Linked DNA regions of Homo sapiens: all the other regions are reported to be linked to region 1. The links are microRNA targets in miRTarBase. Many come from high-throughput screens and were not tested one by one. Region 1 holds a microRNA gene; each other region holds the end of a gene's coding sequence.

Evidence for each region. The annotated mature microRNA hsa-miR-1288-3p reads UGGACUGCCCUGAUCUGGAGA and lies in region 1 at 2,428-2,448, opposite strand. An mRNA with a match to its seed (bases 2 to 7 or 8) in the 3' UTR can be bound and repressed. Matches are read on the target gene's strand: a 7mer-m8 pairs with bases 2 to 8, a 7mer-A1 pairs with bases 2 to 7 and ends in A, and an 8mer does both.
Region 2: miRTarBase lists ITFG2 as a target of hsa-miR-1288-3p. Seed matches in the 3' UTR shown: 7mer-m8 at 1,496-1,502.
Region 3: miRTarBase lists LHFPL3 as a target of hsa-miR-1288-3p. The part of its 3' UTR that is shown has no 7-base or 8-base seed match.

The regions. Positions count from the first base shown.
Region 1 is chr17:16,276,944-16,284,505 of GRCh38, reverse strand. MIR1288 (microRNA 1288) reads right to left here and starts at 2,492; the gene lies at 2,418-2,492. All of the region lies in intron 2 of PIGL (phosphatidylinositol glycan anchor biosynthesis class L), which reads right to left.
Region 2 is chr12:2,823,504-2,831,065 of GRCh38, forward strand. It overlaps ITFG2 (integrin alpha FG-GAP repeat containing 2), which reads left to right. Exons shown (of 12, transcript NM_018463.4): 11 at 267-440; 12 at 587-1,573. The coding sequence ends at 690. NRIP2 (nuclear receptor interacting protein 2) reads right to left here. Exons shown (of 6, transcript NM_031474.3): 2 at 7,205-7,357; 3 at 4,829-4,911; 4 at 4,423-4,544; 5 at 4,122-4,174; 6 at 1,845-3,796. The coding sequence ends at 3,704. Among named protein-coding and RNA genes, the nearest start is that of NRIP2, 7.8 kb to the right of the region's middle. RefSeq lists a silencer at 1,620-1,914.
Region 3 is chr7:104,905,261-104,912,822 of GRCh38, reverse strand. It overlaps LHFPL3 (LHFPL tetraspan subfamily member 3), which reads right to left. Exons shown (of 3, transcript NM_199000.3): 3 at 4,262-6,636. The coding sequence ends at 6,608. LHFPL3-AS2 (LHFPL3 antisense RNA 2) reads left to right here. Exons shown (of 4, transcript NR_027374.1): 3 at 747-907. It also overlaps the pseudogene RN7SL8P. Among named protein-coding and RNA genes, the nearest start is that of LHFPL3-AS2, 18 kb to the left of the region's middle. RefSeq lists a silencer at 2,488-2,644.

The DNA.
Region 1 (7,562 bases):
ATGACTCCTAAAATATAATGTTTAATTTTGTGCCTAATTCGTTAGTCCTACAAAGGCAGTCTAGTCCCCAGGCAAGAAGGAGATTTGTTTTGAGAAGGGGCTGCTATCATCTTTGTTTTAAACTATGAACTGGCTGGGTGCGGTGGCTCACATCTGTAATCCCAGCACTTTGGGAGGTGGAGGAGAATGGATTTCCCGGCCTTGAACCTGTTTATAAAAGCAACTTTCGGGCTAGGCGCAGTGGCTGATGCCTGTAATCCCAGCACTTTGGGAGGCCAAGGCGGGTAGATCACCTGAGGTCAGGAGTTCAAGACCAGCCTGGCCAACATGGTGAGACTACGTCTCTACTAAAAATGCAAAAAATTACCTGGGTGTGGTGGCGGGCGCCTGTAATCCCGGCTACTCAGGAGGCTGAGGCAGGAGAATCGCTTGAACCTGGGAAGCGGAGGTTGCAGTGAGCCGAGATCGCACCGTTGCACTCCAACCTGGGCAACAAGAGTGAAACTCCGTCTCAAAACAAAAAAAAAGAAAGAAAAGCAGCTTTCATGAGCAATATCCTGGTGGCCACCCAAGTTCATGATGAGGCAGATGCGGGATGTATTTCCCTCTCTATGAGGCAATGCTGACAGACCAGGAAGGGAACTATGAGATAAGGCTTTAAGCTTGATCGATGGATTCTGATTGAAGTTAAGTGGGTTCTTACTCATATTCAACAGCATTAATAGTAATTGCTAACTCCTTAATAATTCAATAAGAGCTTTTGTATAATCGGTGATTTAAAAAGTTTTACAAAATCTTCACACTATTCAATTGTTTAATATAGATTAACATCTCTCTCTTATTTTTTTTAAGAGACAGGGTCTCAGTCTGTTGCTTAGGCTGACCTTGAACTCCAGGTCTCAGATGATCCTCCCACCTCACCCTCCCAAAGTGCTCAGATTACAGGTGTGAGCCACGGCACCTGGCCAGATTAACACCTCTTCTAAGAGCAGTGAGTCTTGAATGAGCATGGCTCCTCAGAAATATCTTTTTTTTTTTGAAATAGGGTCTTGCTCTGTCATCCAGGCTGGAGTGCAGTGGTGCAAACACAGCTCACTGCAGCCTCAACCTCCTAGGATCAGGCAATCCTCCTTCCTCAGCCTCTTGAGTAGCTGGGACTACAGGCATGCACAACCACGGCCAGCTAATTAAAACAATTGTTTTGGCCAGGCACAGTGGCTCACGCCTGTAATCCCAGCACTTTGGGAGGCTGAGACTGGCAGATCACCTGAGGTCAGAAGTTAGACACCATCCTGGCCAACATGGTGAAATCCCACCTCTACTAAAAATACAAAAATTAGCTGGGCATGGTGATGTGTGACTGTAATCCCAGCTACTCGGGAGGCTGAGGCAGGAGAATCGCTTAAACCCAGGAGGCAGAAGTTGCAGTGAGCCAAGATCATGCCATTGCACTCCAACCTGGGCAACAGAGTGAGAATCTGTCTAAAAAAAAAAAAAAATTCTTTTTTGGTAGACATGGGGTCTCGCCATGTTGCCCAGGCTGGTCTTGTACTCCTGGGCTCAAGTGATGCTCCCGCTTCAGCTTCCCAAAGTGCTGGGATTGAGCCACTGCACCTGGCCAGAGATATCTTTTGAAGTAGACATTGCTTACTATTACTGGCTGCTGGACCCATAATAGGGGCTGAGTCCTATGACCAGCCTGGACATCTTTCCCAGCTTCTTGAGAGGTGCCAACATCACATCAGGATATATGTATGAGCTGCATTCTGCACTGACTCTTTCACCAACTTAATGAGCACTCTGGATTCCTTGAGATCATTCTTAAAAAGAGTTTGAGGAGGATACCTTCCTTCCACATGACTAATGCTGATTCATTAACCAGAGAATGCAGGAGTTAGAAGGGACTTTAGGAACCATCTAAGTAGTCCTGTTAGCCTCAGAAAGAGTAATTCTAGGGATATTTTGTGAAATCAACACTGACTATGTTTGGGAGGTAAAATGATTCCTTTGTCAAGGTGTTTGGGTATGGGTGTTTAGGGTATGTAAAATTAGATATTTTACATAATAGTAGTAACTAGACTGGTGAAAAAAAAACAGACCAATTATTTACCTCTAATTCAGCATTCCATTGTGCTATCTCTCTCCTATAACTTAGGCTTTTCTAAGTTGTAAAGAACAAGGATATGGAGTCTTTCTACCTCCCTCGTGCATGTTCACTCTGAGATGCTGGCTATGGTGGGCAAGAAGGAGGATAAGCCAAGGGATGCCCAGCCATTCCTCTCACACCCAGAAAAAGGGAGGGCTTTCAGGGGACTGTGGGCAGGCAAAGCTGAAGGAAATTTGGGATATGTGCTAATTCCCAGGAAGACCCTGTCTGGTGATGCTCAGATAGCTTCTGTAGGGTGAATTATTCTCGAAAGGCAGTGGTCTCCAGATCAGGGCAGTCCACCACTATGGTGAGTTACAGTCCTGATCTGCTGATCAACACCCTCTTAGCAGTGCCCCCATGGACAGCTGTCGCCCCCCTTCCATTGTCTGGGGGCAATAGCAGAATGTCTGAGGATGGGTCTTACAGGTTGCATTGCTCTTGCTCCCCTTTGGCTTGCCTGCTTCATGTCAGATGGGAGCTGTACCAGTGGGCACCCCACCTGTGTACCAGAGCTCCTGCTTCTGCAGGAGACTGAGGCCAGTATTTCCTCCTTGTCATGGAAGATTCTATCACAGGTCCCCTTCTTCTTTCTCCTTTAGCCAGTCTCATAAAAATTTGCCAATATCAGTATCCAATTCCTTCTAAAATTAATATTTCTTAGATGTAGGCAAGGAACTAAGCATTAAATATTGCAGCAGAAAATATACACGCCTACCAGGCTAGGGATTTATAGGGAAAATATACAAGAGAGATCCAAATCACTTCAAAATTATTTCCAAGTGGGTTGATGCTATTTGATGTGGTTACTTAAGAATGTAGACAAAAGATACACTTGCAGTGCTGGCCAGAAGATAGCCTTAGTTATTATGAATGTTGCATCTGGCTTTGCAAAGAGCAAATGCCTAGACACATTCTCAGGGATGGGATGGGATTTGTTAAACAATCTCTTGCATCCAGTCTCTGAAACATAAAAGCCGTTGATATTCTTTTAGAGCAGGTAAAAAATGCTTGGACTTTTCTTAGAAAAGGGAGAACATTCCTAGAATTAGCATCTAAAACATGTCAAAATTTAGCTTGCAAAAATGAGTTCAAAATGAACTACTGTTCTACAGCAATGTTTTCCAATTGAGGTCCACAAATCCCTGAGAGTCTGTGGCTAAATTCTCAGGGGTCCATGCATTCCTAGAAAAATTTTTTACTTAAATAATAATCTGAAACATTTCATGATTATTTCCTTGAAAACTTCAAATGAATGTATGTTCATGTGATTTTAGTGCTTATATTTATACATGTGAAAGCACAAGAGTCTTCTCAAAGTAAGTGAGATTTTTTTTCCTTTTAAAAACACCTAGTGAGCCAGGCATGGTGGCTCATGCCTGTAATCCCAGCACCTTGGGAGGCCAAGGTGGGTGGATCACAAGGTCAGGAGTTCAAGACCAGCCTGGCCAAGATAGTGAAACCCCATCTCTACTAAAACTACAAAAATTAGCCAGGCGTAGTGGCAGGCATCTGTAATCCCAGCTACTCAGGAGGCTGAGGCAGAGAATTGGTTGAACCCGGGAGATAGAGGTTGCAGTGAGCCAAGATCGTGCCACTGCACTCCAGCCTGGGTGACAGAGCGAGACTCTATCTCAAACAAAACAAAACAAAACAAAAAAAACACTGAGTGAACCCTAATGCCTAATGTAAATTATGGATTCCAGGTGATAACTATGTGTCAATCAATGTGGGCTAATCAAGTGTAACAAATGTACCATTTGGGTTGGGGATGCTGATAACCAGAGAGGCTGTGCATGCGTGGGGCAAGGGCTATAACTTCTGCTCAATTTTGCTGTGAACTTAAAACTGCTCTAAAAAATAAAGTCTGTTAGAAATAAAAAAAAGTTATGCAAAAAATGACCCAATACTGTATGTAAGCTAAACATGAACAGCAAGTTAAATTAGAAGAAAAGAAAGATCCACCCATCACTCAAAGTTAACTAATTCTGCTCCAAAGTATTGGGGGCTGAAAACCAGCTGGCATTCTCCAGGCAATCAAGGCTAATCTATTTCCATCAACCCTCTTTCTCCAGTCTTATAGGACCCTTAGCCTCTCTCAAGTACAGTCAGTATGGACCCATGCAGGCACCATTTGGTGGGACCTCTGCCCCCAGGAGCAGATAAGGCCTAGAATTACCAATGTGAAAACATATTTTAGACCCAGTATCCAATGGACCAGGGTGAACCTCAAGCATCTGTGTGTACATCAAGCTCTAGGCTCTTCCTCAGTGATGCATATGTTTTTCCATGTCCATGTGCCTGGGCTTCTGCCCTGATGTAGTTGTCTGTTCCTCTACTGGTAATAAACCCAGCCCAGTTAGTCAAGACCATAAGAGGGTCTGGCAAGATGACATTTCCAAGCCTAGTGACTTGAACCAGTTTTCTCTCCTAGATGCTGGCTATAGTCATCTAGCTCCAAACAAGGTCAACCCAGAATCACAGCAAGGCCCCCCTGCCTGACTCTGACCATCTTGTTAGCTAGAAACACTTGCTGCAATGGCTTACCCAATAGATTGGGCCTCCTTGGAAATAGATACTAGTCCACTTCAAGCCTGTATTCACCCCATTCCCAGGCTACTATAATCTGATGACTGACTCACTGGCGTGTGCTGTTGAGGTCCCTGTGCCTCTGATAGACACATCAGTCTGAGATATGACAATCTGGAGCAAGAGAAGGACAATGGGGACAGAGTTTAGGTACAATAGGAAGAATTTAATAAAACTTCTATAGAAAATCTTCTCTTGGGAAGTATAATAAAATAAACAAATGTAAATGAAAATTTAAAAGTTAGAAATATGCATAAATCTGTTCAAGGATAATGCTGAGCCTAAGACCATCCTAAGTGGGTCTCATTGGCCTTGCAGGCAAAATATCTCTTTATTATATGCATTCATTTAGAAGTCACAGTCCTTTGATGCCAACAAGTCTAATCTTATGCCTTACAGTAAATGAACTGGCATCTAAAATATGTCAAAAATTAGGTTGTAGAAATGAATTTAAAGTGACCGGCTGCTCTGCCTATGGAGTTGCCATTCTTTTGTTTCCTTTACTTAATAAACTTGCTTTCACTTTACTCTTTGGATTTGCCTTGAATTCTTTCTTGGGCAAGATCCAAGAACTCCCTCTTGGGGTCTGGATTGGGACTCCTTCCCGGTAACATCTTCCAGGTGAACCCTGAAGGGACAATACTGAGGAAACTCTGGCCCAAAGGAAATAGACTGCAGCACCAATTGGCCAACTTTGGCTGTACCTGCTTATGATGCCCTAGAAACTGTGTGCTTTCCTGGGCCTGTTCCTCCAAGCGCTCTACCCTGAAACCCATAATCCATTTAAGAAACTGGCAAATGAAAAATCTTAACAACTACTGAATATTATTCTGCCTGTCTGTGTATTTATATGGGTTGTGTGTGTGATATGAAAGCATTTTGATTAACTGGTTTAAAAATAATAGGTGCTTAAATCAAATATTGTCAGAAAAGTAAAAAGTATAAATGCCTTTTAGTTCATGAGACTTAAGTAAATCAGTTTTACATGCAAGGAAAGTGAAATGTGTTTTTGGTAAAAGATTATAAAAAGGCATGTGAATGTGGATTTTTTTTTTTTGCCTAGATTTAAGGGTTAAAGGATTGTTTTAGGTTAGATAGGAAAAAGTTGAAGTTTGAACAAGTTGTGGAAGGTTTGTGAAAAATTAATCTTGTAAAAGAAATTCTGTGTGTGAACATATTAGCTAAAATTAAAGGGGTATTATTCAGTTTATCCATAAATTGAAGACTGGAATAAAAGCACAACAGAGTTTTCTTAGAACACTAATCTGCTCTTTAACAAAAATTGTAAAGGGTTTTAAGAGGTTTATAAGAACCTTACCTTATGGTCAGACATTAAAATTGGATAGATTTATCTATAAAGTTTTATTAAGAATCGGGTTTGATCCTGGGCACAGTGGCTCATGCTTGTAATCCCAGCACTTTGGGAGGCCAAGGCAGGTGGATCACCTGAGTTCAGGAGTTTGAGACCCATCCTCACTGGCATGTGCTGTTGAGGTCCCTGTGCCTGGCCAACATGGCGAAACCCTGTTTCTACTAAAAATACAAAAATTAGCCAGGCGTGGTGGCTCACACTTGTAATCCCAGTTACTCGGTAGACTGAGGCAGAAGAATTGCTTGAACCTGGGAGGCAGAGGTTGCGGTGAGCTGGGATCACGTCACTGCATTCCAGCCTGAGCAAAAGAGTGAGATTCTGTCTCAAAAAAAAAAAAAAAGAATTGAGTTTGACATCAATAATGCACTAATTCAATGGTGAAGTTTGGCTTGTTTGGTATAAAAATCATACAGGAAGCACTGTCAAATATGAAATGGCGCTTGGCTTTCTTTGGGCTGTATTTGTATAAATATGTTATTGGTATATGTTCCAAAATCACAGGAAACTCCTACAATTCTGATATGACTTAGTGTATGTTGTTAATCATTATAATTGTTATGTAAAAATTGTTGTATGCCACAGAAGTAACCAAAATTCTTAGTCAACTGTGGCTTTAATAGAGGCTATCCTAAGGTGTTTTGTCACCCACGGACAATTGTTGTCTTGTCTTTGTCCTCTTTAGAAGGTGGTTTTATAATCAATTATAGAACTCTAACAGGTGTTATTGAATGTAGGTTTCTAATAACTTTGTAAATTGTGACATTAAAATAGAGGAAAAAACTTTCAGGACTCATGAAGAGCTGAAATGTTCATGAATATCAAGCAAAACAGGAGTTAACTGCATGGATTGACCTAACAGAAGACTGAAGCAATCTTTTTTTAACTTTTGGCTTAAAACGTTGCTGATCCTTTCTTTTGTTTTTCAGAGCCAAGGAAATTTTTCTTTTGAGCTATTAACAGCTTTTAACAATTGAGTAAAGTATACTCCTGTGAACAAAATTTGAAGCATATTTGTTTCTCTCTGCCCAATTTCTCCAAAATTCAGAAACCATTTGTGAGCATTTTTAACTTATGGCAATATAATTATTTGCATAAATGCAATAAGAATGTTTTCTTTTGTATCAGAACACAATTGGAGAAACTTTTTTTTCACCAAGGCTTTGACTGGAATGACACTCTTTCCTTTAAGGAATCAAACTTGACTTACAGTGCCAATAAAAGCCCCTTAGGAAAACTGGCCTCATACATTGTCTACGTAGTCCCTGTACAGGGTTCTTGACCTGTGGTAAGTAAAGAATGTCACTTTATGACAAGTCCAGGAGCCCCAAGTTATCTTGGGATCTCAAGAAGAGAGAAATTTACCCAACTCATATAGATATTTGAGGGTACAGACCCATGGCTGGGCTCAGCTTTAAAAAAGTCTTATCTGAGATTCCTTCTAAGGAACAAAATTCC
Region 2 (7,562 bases), not on the chromosome of region 1:
GGGAAAAGCAATAAATAGCACCTTTTTGGATGCTATTCTGCCCGGGTTTTGTTACTATGGTTTTTCTACATCTGAAGTGAGCCAGGTCTTTTCCCATCTTACTTGTTTTACTGAGTTCCCAACAGAGAAGAAATAACCTTTAATTTTTTTCCTGACATCAGTGGGAGGATGGAAAGTGCTGACTCGGAGGTCTGTGTCTTGCTGTCTGCCCCCCACTGTCGGCACTGAAACTTCCTGACCTTTATCTCCCTGCCAACATCTTCCAGGCCTGTACGCCTGCAAAGAGGGCCGCAACAGCCCCTGCCTCGTATATGTCACTTTCAACCAGAAGATCTATGTGTACTGGGAGGTGCAGCTGGAGCGGATGGAGTCTACCAATCTGGTGAAACTGCTGGAGACCAAGCCGGAGTACCACAGCCTGCTGCAGGAGCTGGGCGTGGGTGAGTCCCAGAAAAGCCAGTGGCCCGAGTGCCCAGGAGACCCACAGCATGCTGCAGGAGCTGGGCGTGGGTGAGTCCCAGAAAAGCCAGTGGCCCGGGTGCCCAGGAGACCCACAGCCTCTTACCCACCCCTTCTTGGCTCTCAGATCCTGACGACCTCCCTGTGACTCGTGCCCTGCTTCACCAAACGCTCTACCATCCAGACCAGCCACCACAGTGTGCTCCCTCAAGCCTCCAGGATCCCACCTAGCTGTACTTGCCTCATAGCTGGTGAAGGATTCTTCTGAACCCCCACCCTACCCCCTAAAGGTATCTGTGGTATTGGCAGGATAGGGAATATGCATTACAGAAATGCAGGATTTGACTCTGGGCATGAAAGATGGCAGCAGCCCTAGGGTGACCGTGAACTATAGACCTCGCAGTCTTTTCGGTGAAAGAAGAGACAAGTTGACCCTCTGCCCATTTCCTTATGGACCTCACCCATCATGCCAGCAGGGTCATAGGACCCTGGCCTTGTTCCAAATCATCTGGGACATGACCCACTCCCCACTGTCACTGTGTTGAAAACAGAGACTTGTTTGTGTGGCCCCAACACCCATAAGGAAACCAGGCTTTAGGCCCAGGGGAGCAGTGGAGGTAAGGGCTCCACCCCATCTTAAGCTCTGTCTTCCGTGGCACAATTCCAAGTTCTTGACGTTAGTAATTGTTAAAGGAATGGCAAACTGTTTTGTTTTGAAGGATCTTTCTACAGTCTGGTCTTACCCATGTTCCTAGCAACCCTGAGATGATTTTCTTCCATTTACCAAAGCAGCCGGGTCAGTGCTTTCTCACGTTGCCGTATTCTTCAGGTATTAGTCAGCTTCAGAAGCCCTGCTCCCATTTTTCCACCCACCCATTCCCCCATAAAACAGCTTATTGTCTCCAAGACAATAGACATTTAAAATGTGATGCGGGTTTATGATCCAGACCACAATCAGAATTATATCTTGGGTCATTTATGTGCCGTCTGTTCTTGATTCTCTATGCTCTAAATCGGTGTTTTTCAAACTGTGGTTGCAGTCCTTTGGTGGATTATGGCCAGCATTTTTTAAATAGGTAGAATAGAATAAAGTAAAATAGAAAATAGCAGAGTACATTGCTCTCAGTGTAGGTAAGTATTGTTTTGTTAGTCATATGTGCATGTGTGTACTGAGTGCCATGTAAAATGTATTCCTGCTGTGGTAAGCTGTGGTCGAGGAGTTTGAAAGCCATTGCTTTCAAATTCCTCTCAATTATACTGACCCTAGTCAGATGGGTCAGCCTGGGCAAGGGCCCACATTTACATTTCCTTTCTGTAAGGGACAATGGGCAATTATCACTCAGCTCTTGATAGGCAGGGAGGAAGACCAGAGAAGAACATCGACATAGAGAAACAAGAGTTTATTCCAATGGAGAAGCAGCTGAGCCGAGGGCTTGCCATTGGGCCTGGGGTCTGCAGTTACAGAAGCAGCAGGAGGCAGACAAGGAAAGGCACAGCACAAGACCCAGGAAAGTGGACCTTGTGGAGCAAGGCAGTGAGGGCGAGGAAAGCTTTTAGGATTTTGAGACCAGGTGCTATGGCACAAGTGATAAGTGAGCCCTCTCCTTTCCTTCTGAGGGCAGGGGAGGCAGCTGAGAAAGGGCAGGGGAGGCAGCTGAGAAAGGGCAGGCCAGGTGTCACAGGCAGCTCCTTGCATCCCGGTTCTTCTCTAACCCAGTCAACCCCAGGCTCAAGACTGTTTCAGCCCAACGGTCCCAGTTCCCTTGTTCAGGTTAGCTGTACCACTGTCTTTCTCTGCTCCTTTTTTGTTTGTTTTTGGAGACAGGGTCTCACTCCTTCACCCAGGCTGGAGTCCGATGGCACGAACTTGGCTCACTACAACCCCCATCTCCCAGGTTCAAGCAACTCCTATGCCTCAGCCTTCCAAGTAGCTGGGATTACAGGTGTTCACCACCATACCTGGCTAATTTTTGTATTTTTTAGTAGAGATGGGGTTTTGCCATATTACCCAGGCTGGTCTCAAACTCCTGACCTCAAGTGATCCACCCACCTCAGCCTCCCAAAGTGCTGGGATTACAGGCATGAGCCATTGCGCCTGGCCTCTTTCTTTACTCCTAATCCATGATTTGAGAGACTCAAACCAGCCAGAAAGACTCTCAGGGATCTGGCGTCTTAAGGTTCGGGTTCTTCTCTTCACAGTGAATTCAAAAAAGCCTCTGTCTCCTGACAGACCCCAAACTTTAAAAAAAAAAAAAAAGCCTCTGTCTTTTTGCTTTGGCAAAGCCTGGCAGGGGGTTAGAAAGCCACTGATTCCAGGACAATACAAGCTTAAGCTCAAGAGGCCAGAGATGGGGATAGGAAGAAGGCCTAATGAGGTGGATAGTTCTAGAAATCAGAAAGAATGCTGAATAGGTGAAGTCTGAGTGGTGACAACCTCACTGTCCTGTCTGCCTCACAGGAGCAGTTCTCTACAAGGCTCTTCCACACACACACACGCAAGGCTCAGGGGCTCGGTGGGTACAAAAAGCCAGTGGAAACGGATAAATACCTATAGCGTTAATAGCAGAAGTATGTCCAAGGTTTTGCACAGGGTAATCAAACTAACTGGCTTCAGACATTTGCAGCCACAGGAAAAAATAGCTCTCAGCCTTATGAGATGGACATTCCTATACTAACTCCCGCTCTTTGTTGTATTGAATTCTGGCTGTTTCTTCCCCCACTCAACTGTGAGCAGATGTGCACAGACTCCGAGAGGCAGACACCAGGAGGTCCAGGGACATAGGTTGGTGAGGCATGGCGGTCTAGTTGTGGGAGATAATGAGGCCCAGAAGGTGTGGTGAGAGACATGGTGGTGTGGGAAGTTGAGTTGTGTTTGGGGTGGTATTGGGTGATGGACAAGGACAGCAGTCAGCAGAGCCTTCGACCCAGCCCAAGCAGGCACCCCATTGTGCTTAGGTTCCTATCTGTGGTCTTGATTTGGCTTTGCTTTTCTTGGGAGGAAGATGAATCAGAATCCTGGCATCGTGGGCCCTCTAGTGAAAACTCGTCCTGGGGAGTAGGACAGCTGCTGAGAAGCAGAGAGGAATGCGGCCAGCTGGGGAAAATGGGACAGCAGGGGTCAGGGAGGTGATTGGAAGGGCAGACACCATAGTCCCCAGCTACCTGGCTTCAAGAGCCCCCGTTCCCCACACGCCTCTTCTTCTAAGGCAAGGTCTTTCCCTCTGGGGACTGACTGAGACAGCAGTCACTGGCCAGGCTCTTGGTACAAAGGCAGGAAGGGTAGCTCTGAGAACGGGGCTTTCAGCCGCAGCACTCCGTGCTCCAGGTCGATGCAGCACTGCGGGGTGTAGAGCAGTCATGCCAGGTCACCTCAGCCCGCCACCTGCCTCCCGGCCTGCTCCTTTTGTTCCCCCTCCCACTTCCCACAGCTTCCACCTGCCTTTTGCTCTTCCCCCATCCCCATTTCCCTAGACTCCTGTTGAAGGGGGTGACCCAGTTCTCTTGATTTTTCACTTGGTGGTAAGTAAGGAACCTCTAAGGAAGCAAAGGGACAGTTGCCCATCTCTAAGTCACTCTCATCAGAACCTGGTCCAGGTTCCACACCTGTGCCTTCTACTACTTTTTCCCAGTGCTTTGGGTCAGGCCCTGAGTGGGTGCCTTACCTTGAGAGAAAGCAGAGTCTGCAGGCCCAGGCAGAATTCAGGACTCTCAGCATCTATAGGAACAATTTGAAAACAGAAGAGGCTGAGGGTTCCCAGTGGTCACTGCTGCCCTCCTCTTAGCCGTTGCTCCTTCTCTGCCCACCCCATCCCCAGATCCGAGGACACTGGCACAGAGATGGGGGATAGTCAGAACATCTCTGGGAACTCCTCGTGCTGCAGGGAGTGAAAGTCTCAGCCTTTGCCCCACCCCAAAGAGAAAGGTGAGGTGAGCACCAGGGCTGTTGCAGAAGGGGGGACTTACCCACCACCTGTGCCGAGCACACCACAGTCTCCTGCCCCAGCTGTAGCTCCAACTGCTCCACCTGGGTTGGGGGCCCAGGGGCCAGGTCCCCAGCTGAGGCTTTTAGGACCCTTTTCTCTAACCTGTGGTTGGGAAGCAAGGGTTATGGCTACCACAGCCCCTAGAGGGTTCCACCCCATTAATCAGCAGGTGTCCCTCTCTACTATGGTTTCATCTCCAACCCCTGACCTCACGTGGGGTCTAAATCCTTGCCTTCTCTGCCAGAGTCTTCTAGCCACTCTTTTGTTAAATAACAGCTTTATTGAGATAAAATATGCAACTGTCGTCACTATCTAATTTGAGAATATTTTCATCACCCCAAAAAGAAACCCTGTCCCCCACTTGCTTGTTTGGGCCACATTCTTACCCCAGGCGGCTGAGACATCCAGCAGAGATCCGATTGTATTGGGTGCCTGTGTCAACGGCCACTCTAAGCAGCTGGTCCTGGCACTAAGAAAGAAGAATCGTGGTGAATCAGTGAGTCCCTAGGAGAATGGGTTGGAATTGGATCCTTCAGTTTCCCAGCCCATTGATGATTCCCTCCTAGAAATGAGTGGAGAAAATGAACTGTCTTTAAAACTGGCTTTTATCGGGGCCAGGCGCGGTAGCTCACGCCTGTAATCCCAGCACTTTGGAAGGCCGAGGCGGGTGGATCACCTGAGGTCGGGAGTTCAAGACCAGCCTGACCAGGGTTTAGTAGAAACCCTGTCTCTACTAAAAATACAAAATTAGCTGGGTGTGGTGGCGCATGCCTGTAATCCCAGCTACTCGGGAGGCTGAGGCAGGAGAATCGCTTGAACCCGAGAGGCGGAGGTTGTGGTGAGCCAAGATCACGCCATTACACTCCAGCCTGGGCAACAAGAGCAAAACTCTGTCTCAAAACAAACAAAAAAACTGGTTTTTATGAGACTCATACAATAGGGGCAGAACTCCCAGATAAATAAATCAAAAAAGGAAGTGGACCAGGTGCGGTGGCTCATGCTTGTAGTTCTAGCACTTTGGAGGCAAGAGGATCACTTGAAGCCAGGAGTTCAAGACCAGCCTAGGCAACATAGCAAGACTCTGTCTCTACAAAAAATAAAATGGAAAAAAAAAAAGTGGTTATATGTGATGGGTTCATAAGTTTGGGGAAGATCTGCCAGAAATGGAGAAACGGTGATTTGTTTGTTTAGAGGAATCCTTGGGAGTTTGATGGCCTCCTGGTTCGAAAACTCCAGGTTAGGAATAGAGGAAGGATGAGAAGACTGGAATCCCTGTTAGGAAACTCAGATATGAGTAACCAAGAAGTTCGCTATTGGAAACAAAGGAAGACAACTTCACCTACTTTGGGACATAGACATTTTGATATACGCTTGGATATACACACACATCGTTTTCTCATTCCAAACATTCATTGAGTATTTACTATAAGATATGTTACCGGAAGGTATATCAATGAATGCTATTCTTCAGGAGTCTAAAGGAAGTATAATATAACTCTACTATATGGCAGAAAGTTTTATGGTCTATAAAAGGATGTGAATGCCCTGGCCCTGTGGCTCACACCTATCTATAATCCAAGCACTTTGGGAGGCCAAGGTGGAAGGATCGCTTGAGGCCAGGAGTTCAGGACCAGCCTGACCAACGTGGTAGTCTAAAAATACAAAAAAAGAATTAGCCAGCTGTGGTGGCGCACACTTGTAATTTTAGCTACTCAGAAGACTGAGGTGGGAGGATCGCTTGAGTCCAGGAGGTTGAGGCTGCAATGAGCTCTGATCATGCCACTACACTCCAGCCTGGGTGACAGAGTAAGAATCTGTCTCTAAAAAATAAACAAAAGGACCGGAAAAGTCGAGGGGTGCGGTGGCTCACGCCTGTAATCCCAGCACTTTGGGAGGCCGAGGTGGATGGATCACCTGAGGTCAGGAGTTTGAGACCAGCCTGACCAACCTGGAGAAACCCCATCTCTACTAAAAATACAAAATTAGCCAAGTGTGGTAGTGTGGGCCTATAGTCCCAGCTACTTAGGAGGCTGAGGCAGGAGAATCGCTTGAACCCAGGAGGCAGAGGCTGCAGTGACACAAGATCATGCCACTGCACTCCAGCCTGGGTGACAGAGCGAGACTCTGTCTCAAAAAAAATTTTTTTTTTTAAAAAAAGGACGTGAGTAACATGCCTTAGAGGTTGGGAGGGAGGAAAGGCTGTTTCCTACTGGGGAAATCAGAAAAGGTTTCAAGGAGGAGGTAACATCTGAGCTGGGCTTTTGCTTGCAGAATGCGGACCCAGAATGATTGGAGAGCAAGAAGAGCAATCCACATAGAAGAAGCACAGAGCAAAGACGGTGGCCGAGGACCAGTGGGAATTTATTGCGAATGTTCAATAGTGACTGAGTGGTTAAGTGGTTCCAGAGATTACAGGGCCAATGCCTTAGAACACATGAGTTTTTTCCAGAATTACGTTATCCATGCACACACACCATTTGTCTGTGTAGAGCACACTGAGGAGTACTTACTTAATTTAAGTATTGTATTTTGACCAAGGAAGGGGGGCAGAGTAATGGTGGTGACAGATGGAGTTGCACCGAGGAGACATGGCTTGGGGCAGGGAGGAAGGAGGTAGAGGATCCTGGTTAGGTCCAGGCTAGGGAGAGAGGTGCCCTTTCTCCCTCCCTCCCTCTCCCATCAGGGCAGAGCAGAAAGGAGAGCAGGTGAAGTGAGTGCAGGCAGGGTTGTTAATGAAAGTGTGTCCCTGGGAGGCCTCTCACCTTGCAGTTGACCAGAAGAGCTGGAATCTCTGTCCTGCTGGTCTTCCTCCTGCTCTCCTGGCCATGAATCAGGTCCTGCATCCGGGGAGGCTCCCCCTGAAGCCAATTCGGGTTTCCCTCCACCAGGCGTCTTTGGATCACACTGCGCGGCTGCTGGCTCCATCACAAAACAATGAAGGTAGGCAGTTCTAAACCCAGGCATCCAGGCTGCTCAGTTACCCCACTTAGATACCCCAGGATGCTCCCCCCACCCCCCCAGCCCTGAGCCTTACCCTAGGAGTTTACCCTAGGGTCCCAGATAATGAGAGCAGAGTAAGCCCCAGTATCAAATCATGCCGTTTTCCTTGGACACCCATAG
Region 3 (7,562 bases), not on the chromosome of region 1:
TGTATTTCTGATCTAATGTAATCATTTATATTGAAGTTTGTAACTGAGGTTTATTCATTTCCATGCTTACAGAGGTATTAAATTAGTCAATTAAAAATACTGCAAATTGTAAATAGTTTATTTATCCTTGTTGATGGACATTTTCCTTGTATTTTTAGCAATCTGTTAGACGAAGGTTTTCCATTTTTGTACATGGTTTTTGGTGCTTATGTGCAAGAATTTCTCCAGCATATATACCTAGGAATAAAACTGATGAATTTAGTGCATGCAAATGTTCAGTTGTAGAAGATAATGCCAAGTTGTTTTTCTTTTCCTCTCTTTTTTTTTTTTTTTTTTGGACAGAGTCTCATTCTCACCCAGGCTAGAACCGCCTCCGGGGTTCAAGCAATTCCTGTGCCTCAGCCTCCGGAGTAGCTGAGATTACAGGCACACGTCACCACGCCAAGCTAATTTTTGTATTTTTAGTAGAGATGGGGTTTCACCATGTTGGCCAGGCTGGCCTTGAACTCCTGACCTCAAGTGATCTGCCTGTCTTGGCCTCCCAAAGTTCTGGGAGTAGAGAGATGAGCCAGTGCGCTCTGTCTATTTTGACAGTTATTTTATCTCAGCAGTTTAAATATATCATGCTAATGTGTCTGGTATTTATTGTTGGCCCAGAAATTATTCCTTTGCAGGTGGTGCAAAGGATCAGCACGGGAGTTTTGACCTGCTCCGTTTCCGACCTGGGTCGGTTCACCCCTCCTTAGGCAACCTGGCGGTTCCCCGCTCCAGGGAGGTCACCCTCTTGATGCTGAATTTAGCACGGACACCTGATGGGCACAGTGCACTGCAGCCCAGAGCTCCTGAGCTCAAGCCATCCTCCTGCCTCAGCCTCCAAGTAGCCAGGACCACAGGCACGCACCCTGAGGTATGCCATTTCTCTTTGGTTCTTGTTATGGTAGTTCCTCTGTTTTTCCCTGTATTTTTACTGTCATGTCTTCCTTTATATTTATCTTGCTTGATATCTATTGTGCTTCCTATATGTGTGGATTCATATCTTTATCATTTTTGAAAAATTTTCAGACATTTTCTATTCAAATATTGCCTTTCCCTTATTCTCTCTATTTCTCCTGTTGGAAATCTGGTTAGATGTCTGTGTCTTCTCTGTTGTTTAACCTCTTTGTCATTTACCAACCCCTTGGCTTTTTGTATTGTATTCTGTGTAATTTCTTTAGATCTGTCTACTAGTTCACAGCTCCTCTCTTCAGTTATACCTGTTTGTAATTTACACATTGTACTTTAAATTTCAGTGATTATAGTTTTAATTTCTAAGACTTAAAAAATTTCCTTCTAATCTATCTGATTATATGTAATGTACTCTTTATTGTATTCATTGTTTTAGACGCTGTCTTTATTTCCTTAACATGTAAAACATGATTATTTTATATTGTGTATCTGGTAATTCCACTATCTAAAATCTGTAGGGTGATAAGTCGGCTGTTAGTTATATCTGCTGATTATCGCTTACAGTTTATTTGTATATTTAGTAATTTTTATTTTTATTTTTGAGACGGAGTCTCGCTGTCTCCCAGGCCGGAGTGCAGTGGCGCGATCTCGGCTCACTGCAAGCTCCGCCCCCCGGGTTCACGCCATTCTCCTGCCTCAGCCTCCCGAGTAGCTGGGACTACAGGCACCCGCCACCACGCCCGGCTAATTTTTTTCTTTTTGTATTTTTAGTAGAGACGGGGTTTCACCGTGTTCGCCAGGATGGTCTCGATCTCCTGACCTCGTGATCCGCCTGCCTCGGCCTCCCAAAGTGCTGGGATTATAGGCGTGAGCCACCGCGCCCAGCCATATTTAGTAATTTTAAAATTGCAATTGCATACTTTGTTGAGCTTAATTGGTGAGAGCTATGCGAGAGATGCTTTCCTCTAGACAACAAATGCTTGTATCTGCCTGGTACAAGGGGCCCTAAAAAGCTCTTTAATTTCTTGGTTGGGGTTTCTTTGATCATATGGAGAGTGTAAGACTGAATTCCATACTTGACGGGGGCAGGCATATGATAAATTTCAAGGGGTCATTATTATTTTTTTTTTCCATCTAGAGCCAGTGTGGAGATGGTGTTCTTGATAGATTTCTTTCGCTAGCATGAGGATTTTTCCTAGACCACTCTTGCCTAGGATGTAGCCATCTTCAAGCATCCTGCTTTTGGATGTGAATGTCAAATTTAACTCACCTGCTTCCAGTGGCCCAACGCTTAATCTTCCATTCCCTACTTTGTTATACAGATTTACCTTCAGGCAAGCCCAGTTTTTGCCTTTGCTTACATTTCACACTTAGTTTTCAGCTCACTCCACTTCTTTTTTGAAATGTTTTTGGAATTTCCCTTATTTTCTTATAATCTAAGCTGTGTGTTAAAAATAAACTTATTGTAATTTATCTAAGATTTAATAGTATGGCATAAGAAAGGCTTTTTAGAGGCTGGGCTCAATGGCTCACGCCTGTAATCCCAGCACTATGGGAGGCCAAGGTGGGTGGATAATGAGGTCAGGAGTTCAAGACTAGCCTGGCCAACATGGTGAAACCCCGTCTCTACTAAAAATACAAAAATTAGCTGGGCATGGTGGTGCGGAGGTTGCAGTTAGCCAAGATCGCCCCACTGCACTCCAACCTGGGTGACAGAGCCAGACTCCGTCTTAAAAAAAAAAAAAAAAAAAAAAAAAAAAGAAAGGCTTTTTAGAGTATCTAGTTTATACTGCTAGATGCCGAAACCAAAAGTAATCTTTTAGAAATGTGAAATAGTTTATATCACTCTTCTGCTTAAGATCCTCCAGTGGCTTTTTCTCACACTTAAAATGTACAAACTATCCTGGCCTACAAAGCCCAGAGCTGGGTCCTAGCTTAGCCCACGTGGCTCCCCACTCTGCCACCTTGCCGTTCCTGGTCTGGCATGCCTTCTGCTTTTTTCACACGTGGCTTTTAAACGTTTGTTCAGGTCTCACTCTAAATGCCACCTTTTCATGGAGGCCTTACCTGACTCCTCTCTCCATTTCTCTGTCAATCACCCTGTTTTAATTCTCTTTAGGGCATCTATTATTAGCTGACATTTTCCAGTCTATTGTCTGTCTTCCCCTACTAGAACATAAGACCTATGAAAGGAAAGCAGGGTTTTGTGTGATTCACCACTATATTCTCAGAGTTTAGAACAGTTCTTGGCACATAGTAGGAACTCAATACATATTTCTTGAATCATTAGAGCTGAGCGTTGACTACTTATTCCCTTTAGACGGGACCTAGGCTCTTCAGTGCTCCACAGTTCCCACTACTTCCTTTTAAAAATTTATTTTATTTTATTTAAAAAATTATTGTTGTTTTTTTTTTTTATTTTCAGAGAAGGGATCTCACTATATTGCCTAGGCTGGTCACATACTCCTGGACTCAAGTGATCCATCTGCCTCAGCCTCCCAAAGTACTGGGATTAGAGGCCACTGTGCCAGGCCAGTTCCTACTACGCCCTATTATGTCCCCAGCTGAGCTTGCTTTGTGAATTTATTGGCCCTTGTACGCATTTGAATTTTCAATCCCTGCTTATAAATGTCACTCTAATTGTCTTCAGGATCTTCAGAGCAGAGACTTTTTTTTATGTTTCTTTTCTTCCTTCAGTGTCTTGCATATAGTAGGAGGGGAAGGAATGAACATTCACTGAATATCCCCTACCTGTCAAACACAACAACAGTATAGTTTAATTTATATCCTTACAACAATGCTATGGAGCTGAGTAATATTATTTATATCTATTTTACCAGTGAGGACACTGAGGCTTAGAGTTGTTCAGAGTCATATAGTAAACCAAGGATCAGGGATTGGAACCCACTCAGACAACATATACCCAGTATGAAGTGTTGTTGCTTCATATACCCAGTATGAAGGGTTGCTCATGTGCGAGGAATGGTTGGTTGTTTTCAATTTGCAAAGGGGAGATTGGGCAATTGGATATTGCAGGTCAAGTTTTACTTGAGTAGTCCAGCTATTTATTTAGTTATCAATTTCATTCCACTGAGTGTATGGAGAATTAGCTGGAGATATTCCTACATTTGGCCAGAAGAGGCTTTGGAGATGTTAACCATGCCTTCTACATGAGAGTCCTGCTGTTGACAGATATGGAATCCAACAGCAGGGAGATTTTCCGAGATAGTTACTTCAGTGGAACCATCAGCTGTCACCAGATCACTGGACAAAGACAGAAACTGAATGCACCAAATATGTACCACACCACCAAAAATTCTTTTAAGTAACAAAATCTTATTTTTATTTTTATTTTTTTACAGAAATTCAGGTATTCCAACAAATTTCTTTACATTTCTTGGACCTTAAAAAAATTACACACAACTTTTGGACGCAATACAACAGAACAGAATGAGAAAGGGAGTCACCTTTTTTGTTTTTTTTTTAAAAAGATAAAAACCTACTTCTTATATTTAATTAACAATTAGTGATTTACATGTGTATTACCTATATACAAATGGTACATCGTCAATGACCCATCTTCAGAGCACTGTGGTATGCTAAATTACACTTAGGTTTTATGGCAAAAACTTTTTTAAAACATTCACATGTGGATAGGAAGTACTTTCTTAGTTTTGTTCATACCACTGTTAGTGATGTAGGACTCCCGATGGAATTTGTAGTTTGCATGGATTAGAGAAAGCCAATACCCTTTGTTTTTATTGTAGATAAAGTAGACAGGTACCTCCCTTCAAATAAAATACGAATTCTTGAAAAGTTGTGTGTAATTAAATTTAGTAAGTAGGGTGTTATGGATGTAGTAGGGAGCTAATACTTAAAGCAACAAATAATCCTCAGAATGACTAATACTTTAGTTGTAGATACTAAGTATTCCCTTAATTTGGTTCTTTAGAAAAGCCACATCTCTGTGAATTGGGTTTTACTCCTTTGAGCATACCCATAATATGCTTTTAGCCATTTGAAACATAATGCCATTTATGGTGAAAAGATGGCCCGTACCAGAAACATTTGGCTAAAATAGGAATGTGGTCCTAACAGAGAGAGGGTAAGAGAAGTGAACCCTGATCTGTATCACTTCTTGTGTTATCCTCCATCTGATGTTCTAGTGATATACACTGATTTGTTCTGATTTTGAATACATGAATAAAAGCATTCTACATGTCCATGTTTTCTCCTTAGGTATAGAACATGGTTTGGCTTCCATTAAGTACCCTTGCATGTATTTTAGCTTGTGTTCATTCTCAGGCAATGGGCTATTTCAATATTAAATATTTGTTTGTTGTTGGATATTAGCAGGATATGTGGTGAGGGTGATGATGGGGGAAGCCTGGGAGCAAATGATTGTTGAAGTCCACTGGTTAGTTGTTAACTACTTCCAGATGTCAGCCAACTAAAATGAATCTGAGTATTTTTGAAACCAACATTAGTAAACAAAAAGGTAACTTATTCCTACCGAGTTTTTTTCAACCTGTATAAGTATACAGTCATTTATTTCTAAGGCTATTAAATTATTATTTATTTTGTTAGTACCACTTACTATTATTTAGAAATATGTTTAATGGAATGATTTTTAAAAAAATAAAAATGAGTGCCCATCAGTAAGGGAAATAGAAGACATGGATTTCTGATAACATGTATGGCAAAGAAATAGGAAAAAAGTAGGAGACATTTTAGATACTTATTTATAAAGTATATTAAATTCCTATGCATATACTAGGGAGAATTAGAAAAAAAGTGTTTATTTGATAGTAGCCTATAATATTACACGTGAGCTTCCAAGGTGAAAATGAACTTTTTCTATATTTTTCAGAGTTCCTTGATGCTGTTTCCTGAAAGATAGGGAAATCTATGTTGCTTGGGAACCTATGATGTAAAGATGTACTTCCTGTAATATACAGCTTGATGGAGTAATAGTATATGGCATAAACACTTTCTCAGTAATAACTTGTATGGACAGATTAAACAGAACACAGACTTGGTAAAAAGTTTGAAGCGTTACGTCTCTTAATAACTGAGTGGTTGTAACTAATTACACAGTGAAGTAAATGAATGGTAGAGATGAAGAACCAAAGGTCACGGCTCCTATGAAAACATTCAGAGGCATTTTCTAAGATGCTTCCTCAATAAATGACGCTTGATCAGCCTCTTGGCTATTGAGATAGGAATAATTTAGAACTAACTGCCTTTTTAAAAATTCTGTTGAAAGGTTAAAGCTTTTTGTTTTCAGTTTGATTTAAAAAGGACAGTTTACAAACCTCAGTACGTATATATTTTACATGTTAACTCTAGAGCATTTATATTCCTCTTCCTTATTTCCTGAATATGATTTTTCATGAACGTTTTCTGATCTCATCCAATGAGTTTCCAATGAGCTGGTGTTTAATCCATGATCACATCTCTTTCCAGAAAATCACTCCCATCTCTGCTGATCTAGATTTAGAAAGTGCGTTGACAAGTGAATGTTCCATTCTTGTTCATATTCATCTATATACTCTGATCTCTCTCAGGCGTATTCCTTCTTGATGTTGATGTACAAAAGCTGTTATTCGATTCGTTTAGCTGTTATTCGATTTGTTTAGCTGTTATTCGATTTGTTTTGTGCTCATTCTAGAGAATATTGGCTTAGCAGAACTGCAGAAATTGGAGGGAAGAGAGAGAAAAAGGGTGGGGGGAGAGAAAAAATACATCATTTTCTGTCTGCAAGATTTTTGTGCATAATATTTGTCACGGAAAAACTATACCAATGAATGGTTCAAATGCATTTTGCATTTGTTACCAAACAATACTGGAAAGTTTGAGATTTCTGTTCCATTCAACCCACAGTACAGTCTTCCCAGCAAGAAGAACATGAGTATTCCCTCCATCTGGGTCAAGATTAGAGGCTGCTTTGAAGGAGCAAGGAAAAATGTGGACTGTTCCCAAGTATCACTGACTTTTCTGCTTAGCATGGAAAAATGTGTCACTTGAGTGTTTTCCTTTTCTTTCCAAGTTTTATTTATTTGAACTCAACATTATAGCAGCTACAAAAGAAATTATTATAAAGATTAATGACCCACAATTTAATCACTTGGACACAACTGTTTTCTTCCTATATTTCTTTCCATTCCTTATCTAAATGGGAAATTATTTTATACAATTGTAATTACAGTATAGATGATACTTTAAACATTTAAACATTACATTAAAGACAATTTTCTAAATTTCCATTGTCCATATCAGCATAAGTTTCTTTTATTTATTTATTTACTTAATTTATAATATAGAGACAGGGTTTCACCATGTTGCCCAGGCTGATCTCGAACTCCTGAGCTGAAGTGAGCCACCTTCCCCAGCCTCCCAGAGTGTAGGGATGACAGGTGTGCGCTACTGTGCCCCACCATCAGCATGAATTTTCAATGGCTGCATAATATTCTGCCTCATTCTCATTCCTTTCTACTCTATGCTCAATATTCCATTTGCAACTGTTTCACTATTGTCAGACATATAGGAAGGTTTCTGATTTATTATTATAAATATGAATATCTTTTATATAAAGATCTATTTATATTTTAAAATAT